Linked DNA regions of Homo sapiens. The protein of the gene in region 1 purifies or fractionates together with the protein of each later gene. This does not show direct contact. Each region holds a gene or a part of one and is shown on either strand. Other genes may lie near its edges.

Region 1 (3,858 bases):
TAACTACCTTTTGAAGTAATTCTCTTTTGCTTGCAAGAGTTAACTCTTTAGGAATCTGAAGATTGGCATCTACACTTAATCGATGCTGTTGCTGCTTTGGGGCTCGAGGTGATAAAATTCCTTTAGTGCTTGACCAGCTCTCCCTATGCCTCAGATGAGGAGGTTTACTATGTTCATCAACCTGTTGTAAGCTGAAACCATAAAAGCAGTATGTTACATTGAAATGTTTTTTTAAAAAATACTCAGGACCATATTTAAAGATTCTTTTCAAAGGATATGGTTAAAATGGGCATATGTAACCACAAAAAGTAATTAAATAAATGATTAAGAGCACAAAATATGAAATCAGCAAAAACAGATATGAATTCTGATTCTTGCATGTCCTGGACTGCAGCCTTAGGTAGATTAGTTAACCTTTCTAAACTTCAGTTTCCTTATCTGTAAAATAGAAATAATAATAGTATTTAACCCACAGAGATGTAAGAATTAGATGGAAAAAAAGTACTAATAGCACCTAATAAACATTTTCCAATTTTTAAATTAACACTATCTTTTGAAACATATACACTACTACACTTGACTTAAAATGTTAACATCATACCTTTTATTTTCTTCCCAACCAGATTTCCATCTTTTGGCAGACTTGGAACTTTGCCAGTTTTCTACATTCTCCTTTGGTTCAGTGCCTGACTTTGTAGAATGCTGATTTGTAGTTTCTTGTGGTCGCTCCTCTTCAGTCTTTTTCATTCGCCTTGGATCCCGAATATCCTGTTTAGTACTTCTCTTAGCATTTCTGTCTTCCCTAGAAGGTGGTGTAAACTCTTCCATATGTGACTGCTTAGCTCCAGATTGGCGAATCTTTCCAGCTTTAGGTGTCGATGTTGGAGACATACTTCTTTGCCTTCGTTTGGGTGACCGCCTATCTCTTCTCTTTGGGGAATGTATAATTGGTGACCTAGACTTGGGTGATCGAGATCTTGATCGCTTTCTAGTACTCGATCTCCCTGGTTTTGTCCCCTGTTTTTCTGACTCTTCTGTTATTGTATCCTGTTTTTGTACAATGCCATTTATGATTTTATTTCTACTTCCAGCCAGTCTGTGTTCGGATGACTTCATGTGCTCATCTTTATCCTTTTTTTCTGCAGTTTTTCTCTTCTCTTTCACATCATCATCTTTGCCATCGGTCTTATCCTGAAGATGTTTTTTTAATCTTGGATCTCTCTTGTTCATATCAGACAACCTCATACTTTCCGATTCTTGATTTTTCAAGTCTTTTGTGTGAGATAATTTGTTTTTCAAAGGTGAGGGTGATTTCGATTTCGATTTCGATTTAGAATCTAATTGGTCAAGTTCTTTCTTGGTTATTTTTTCACCTGATTTACTTTTTTCTTGCTTGGATGAATTTAGTTTTTCAGAGGGTATAGTTTTACTTGTCTTAGTATCAGACTGGTTTAATGTGTTCATTAGAAATTCTTTCCTGTGACTCTGATCTTTTCCATGAGAATGTTGGCTTATCCTGTTCAGACGAGGATCCCGGTTAGTTCCTTTTAAATCCTGAATTTGTAAGGATGGTCCTGGACGGCTTTTCTCAGATTGCACAGGAACCTGATGAGGAGCTTTAACTGCCATAGGGGGAATCTGTGAAACATGTAATTTGGATGGTGCAGATCCAGGACCTAAATTGGATGTTTCCTGCTGAACACTAAGAGAAACTGCCTAAAACACAAAATAAATGTTCATGTTAACACTGCAGAACATGCAGATTGTCAAGAAATTGCAAACAACTGAAGAAGATAATGCTTTATTCAATAAATATATTTACTCAACACTACATTTAAATTGTACACTTATAATGTATAAATTGAGATTACAATGAAAAGAAAAAGTCCATGATTTAAGTTGCCCATTATTTCTTACTAGTATTTTTTGAGACTTTATAATATAATCTCTAAATAGAATGAAAAAAAATTGTTTCTCTTCCTTATTGTTCAGGATTCTGAGCCATACTGCTCCTAAGAAATTGCTAAATCACTACACTCCGGCTGCACAAGAATCAGAGTCATTTCAGCTAAATTCTAAGTCCTAAAATTTAGTTTCTCCCAAAGTGGTGCTATTAATGAACTTATAAAATTCTGCCTTCCTGCACCTCACTGTCGAATAAGCTCAGATGCTAAGCAAAATAACTTAGTATAAAGTCATTTATGTGTAGAAAGATATAATCTTCCTGGCCTCCTTAATTTTGTCATTTCTGTTCATGGAGCATAAGCTCATAAAACATTAAAGACTATGCAAAAATATTTGCCACAACATGCCTACCATCTTGGGACTGAAATATTAAGTCCACATAATGTAATGATTAAACAAAATTAAGATGCTATTTTATAAGATAGCAATCTAACAGAAAACTGTTTGGAGGAAATAGTGTAGTTTTGTAGTTTTTGGAGGGTTTTCTTGAGACAGGGTCTTGATCTGTCACTCAAGCTAGAGTGCAGTGAAGCAATCATAGCACACTGCAGCCGCAAGTGATCCTTCCAACTCAGCCTCTCGAGTAGCTGGGATCACAAGGATGCACTACCCCACCTGGCTAATTTTTTTTTTTTTGGTAGGGCCTCACTATGTTGCCCAGGCTGGCCTCAAACTCCTAAACTCAAGCGATCCTCCCACCTCAGACTTCCCAAGTGTTGGGATTACAGGCATGATCCACTGCGCCTGGCCTATGCAGTTTTTAATCAAGTGAATTTTACAATAAAGATATAAAAGTATAGTCTAATAAATATACTCATTTGTAAAATAAAAGTGAAAAAAGAGTACACTATTAATAAAAGTAACATGTTAATAAAATTCAAACATAAACATTACTTCCCTATTGTTAGACAGGTTTAAAATATTTAAAATGACAATCTCCCTTACTTACCAACTGTGCCTTAGCTTGCTCTAGCTCAAGCTCCAGCTTTTTCTGCTGAAGTTCTAACAACTGTTTTTGCTTTGCCAGTAACTGCTGCCTTATTAGTTGTTCTTGTGTAAGATTCTTTTGTATATCAGGAACAATTGGAGGAGTGGAGATGCTAGGGGAACTGACCACTGTACCAGGTGTTGAAGGCTCCTCGGGCTATAAGAAAAGACAATTTGTTTAAGAAAAACGTATCAGCTAAAACGGAAGCTAGGGAGTAAAAATTATCAGCTTAACTCTTAATATGATCCAAATTCCTATCACACAGAAAACTTATCAGAAATTTAAAACCCAAAATAAATGTTACATAATACCTAAACAAGGTGAATATATTTCTAAATAAAAATTCCAAACATATACACACTATTTTTTTTTTTTTCAAATTGAACCAATTCACTACCGAGTATTCTATTTTGACTTTCTGGCAGTAAGTTCTGCAGAAGAATTCAAAATGTGATACTTAAAAGTATGTTACTTACTATTCATATTAAAACTTACCGATTTATTTAAAAATTTAGGATTCACATGGATGCTAGACGTATTCACATTGGGGGGTAGAGGTTTAATAGGCCAAGCAGGATCTAATGAATTGACTCTGACATCCAGGGCATAAAGTTTCTTCAAAGGGAATATTTCATCCCATGTAGAACGTAACTTAAATAAACTTTTCCTAGTATTTTCATCCACCTAGAACAACAGAACAATTCTATGGCTTGTTAAGTTACTATAGAATATTTTATATATTAAATATAAGTTATATAAATCTGCTCTACTTCACATACAGAACTGTACTACCCATTGGTAAGTATATACAACAGTAATAATTTATTAAAGGTGCATTTCTCCTTCAAAAACAGAGTAATTAAAACCATTTTCACCTAGCCTTCATGCAAGCAACCAACCAGGTG
Region 2 (3,500 bases), on another chromosome or scaffold:
GAGACTCCGTCTCAAAAAAAAGCAAATAGCACAGCTGTAATTCTCCTCCATATCCCATCCCCCCGCCGGCCCTGCATGATTGGAGTTAATCAGGACTGGGGTTTTGCCAGCCTAGTAGAGAGAAGTACCTAGAGGAGCAAGACATTTGAGTGTTTGCAAATAATGTTAACAGATCATGAATTGAAGGTGAGGACCTGAGTAAAAACAGGAGGGGGTCATGGATAGGGAAAAAGTAGTCAGCGAATTAGAGAGATACCACTGACCCCAGAGGATTTTTGCAATGGGAATACTAGAGTAAGTAAGGTGTTAGAGAATGAGATGCTTGAAGTGAAATTTTGAAAGTAGAACAGTTACTGGTAGTGATAAGGTCTAGGGTGTAATCGTAGTGGTGGGTGGCTGAAGTGAAATGATTATTGGAGTTGAGGAAGTCAAGGAACCAACAGGTCAGTATTGAAGTTACTGAGAGGAACAACGGGTCATGTAAAAGTCCTCAGTGAATGAGGCCAGGTGAATAGATGCCATAGTGAAGAGGAAATGTGGAAGACTAATAGTGAACTGCTGGGTGGCAAGAGCTTTAATGGGACTAGACTATTTGAAAGAGGAAAGAGAAGACATGGTTTAGAAGCTGCAGTGAGGAGCAAGGAACACATACCTCCTGCTTTTCAAGTACAGGGGGTACAAGAAGTTAAAACAACAACAACAAAAAACCTTGAGAAGGCCGTAAGAGGAAGAGTATGATGAGGGAACAGCCAGGTACCTGGGAAGACAAGCAGGTGAAGAGAATTTTCAGAGAAGCAGTTGCAGTTACAGGTGAGTATGATCACAGTTCCAGAGAGCATCCTGAAAGGATTTGAGAGGGAGAAGAGGTAGGGGATTAGGTCTTACTGGGAGACGTACACATCGTTGATAATTGATAACCTAGCAGTCTTGTGATTTTGGCTGTCACTCAGATAAACAAGGCTGGGAGATGTGGTGGGTTTAGCAGCCCCTGTCAGCCTCTTATGAAAGGTGGATATTCAGTTTACCTTAGTTTGTTGATGGCCTTGAGTAGTGGTAAGAAATTATTAGGTAACTCGGTGGCCTTCTCTCCTACTTGCATAGTTAGCCAGGAAAAGCTCATTTATTTTAGGGAGCTAAAATCTGAAATGTTGCTGTGGAGTTGAACTTTGCTAATGAATATTTTCATAACTTCTGCTTAATAGCACACAGTTCCAGGTTCTAAATCCCATTTTTAAAAAATGTATATATTTTATTTTATTTATTTTTTAGATACAAAGTCTCACTTTGTTGCCCAGTCTAGGGTACACTCTAGGGTCTCACTCTGTGCCCAGTCTAGTGGCGCACTCATAGCTCACAGTAACCTCGGACTCCTGGGCTCAAGCAATTCTCTCATCTTGGCCTTCTGAGTAGCTAGGACTACAGGTACATGCCACCAGCCAGTTTTCTTATATTTTTTTTTTGTAGAGACAGGGTCTCACTACATTGCCTAGGCTGGTCTCAAACTCCTGAACTCTAGCAGTCTTCCTGCCTCGGCTTCCCAAAGTGCTGGGATCACAGGCGTGAGCCACCGTGCCTGGCCTGTAGATGTGTTCATGTTATATTTTCCTGAAATATATGTAGTAGGCATCCCAATTTGCATTTCATCAGATATATGTTGAAGCGTGCATCAGGTTCTATTTAGGGAGTTGCAAACATATGCCACCTATGTTTTTCAGTTGCTCACATTCCAATGCAAGGGTTCTTAATGTTAAACTCCCTGAAAAGTTTGTGAATTTCTACGTGTATATGTACTCTTGTTTTTTGTTTGAGTGTGTTGAGAGTTGGTGGGGGAGGGGGAGGGTCCATAGGTTTTTATCAGATTCTCAAGGGGATCTATTTAAGGACCACTGGTCTAATTAATGGGAGAGAAAGACATGTAAACTAATCATTGTAATACAGTGAAATCAGTGCCATCACAAAGCAAGATAAAAGAGGAAGAGATTCACCTTGAAGGATGAGTTCATTAATTCCTAAACATTTATTTATTGAGGAACTTGGATGCAGTAGTATCTGTTATAGGTAATTTATACATTATTTGAAATACTTCAACATTGTTTTTACATGTATACTAATACTAATGTTTTATAGACTGAGATACATAGGTGAGGAAAGTTTAATTAACTTGCTTCAAATCACATAGAAGTAGATTCATATATGGGTCTATTTGATTGCAACATTCACTACCCCACTAGGGAGCCACTAAAGGGCTCATTGTGTCTAAGATTATCTTTGTGCTTTTAAACTTGGCAGTGACTTAATAAACTTGCTTTCACTTAAAAAAAAAAAGTAAACTTGGCAATGATGGAAATGGGCCTTTAAACTGCTTTTCGTGTTAATGGAATTTCTATGCACTTAAAGATTTGAAATAATTTTAATCAATTTGTTTATTATATATGCCAGACTGTGCTTTTATGTTTAATTATGTTTTCATTTCATTTGAAAGACTCTTCTAGCTTGCTGTTTCTGGACCAAAAAAAATGACGTCTATTATCAAATTAACTACCCTTTCTGGGGTCCAAGAAGAATCTGCCCTTTGCTATCTTCTCCAAGTTGATGAGTTTAGATTTTTATTGGACTGTGGCTGGGATGAGCACTTTTCTATGGATATTATTGATTCCCTGAGGAAGTAAGTTACATTTCATAATTCTATGTTTTTATTAAATCAACTTCTCTTTTCTGTACTGTAATACCATTTCGATGTGATAAATACTGCCTTTTTACACTAGTTTATAGCAAAAGGCTTAATTTTACTTATGCCAAAAACCTATAGTGACATTTTAACTTGTAAAGTTTTGATTGACTTATAAGCTTTGCTTGTTGAAATTCAGCAAAATCTTAAGCTAATGGATTTCAGTAGAAACTTTTGCATGCTAATTTTTGGAAAGAACAAGAATACATAAGAATTTGAGAAGAGGAAACATTTTCCATGTGAAAGTTCTGTGGTCAGATCACATTAGCTTACTTTCTACATCTTTTGATGCTTAACATTGTCAGCTGGTTCTCAGAATGACCATGAGATACTGATTCATCAAAAAAAAAATCAATTATGGGCTGGGCACAGTGGCTCACGCTGGCAATCCCAGTACTTTAGGAGGCTGAGGTGGGCAGATCACTTGAGTTCAGGAGTTCGAGACCAGCCTGGCCAACATGGTGAAACTCCAACTCTACTAAAAATACAAAAATTAGCCGGGTGTGATGGTGTGCACCTATAATCCCAGCTACTTGGGAGGCTGAGGCAGGAGAATTGCTTGAACCCAGGAGGCAGAGATTGCACTGAGCCGAGATCGTACCACTACACTCCAGCCTGGGCGCAAAGCAAGACTCTGTTTCAAAAAAAAAATAAGATAAAATAAAAAGTCAATGATGTTTGCAGTATTATACTAATTTTGCAAGAAAAGAGGACTTAAATATTTAAAAAACTTTAGAACTTGAGAAAAAAAATCCAAACCATTTTATTAATT

The links. The genes of interacting proteins can lie anywhere in the genome.
Region 2: the proteins of PCF11 (region 1) and CPSF2 fractionate together in Homo sapiens (co-fractionation; one large-scale study listed by BioGRID). This does not show direct contact.

Annotation. Positions count from the first base shown.
Region 1 is NC_000011.10:83,163,458-83,167,315, reverse strand, and holds part of PCF11 (pre-mRNA cleavage complex 2 protein Pcf11), read right to left. Parts: intron 3,638-3,858; coding exon 3,449-3,637; intron 3,110-3,448; coding exon 2,915-3,109; intron 1,717-2,914; coding exon 602-1,716; intron 192-601; coding exon 8-191; intron 1-7. UniProt on the Homo sapiens protein: Component of pre-mRNA cleavage complex II, which promotes transcription termination by RNA polymerase II.
Region 2 is NC_000014.9:92,128,469-92,131,968, forward strand, and holds part of CPSF2 (cleavage and polyadenylation specificity factor subunit 2), read left to right. Parts: intron 1-2,482; 5' UTR 2,483-2,516; coding exon 2,517-2,665; intron 2,666-3,500. UniProt on the Homo sapiens protein: Component of the cleavage and polyadenylation specificity factor (CPSF) complex that play a key role in pre-mRNA 3'-end formation, recognizing the AAUAAA signal sequence and interacting with poly(A) polymerase and other factors to bring about cleavage and poly(A) addition.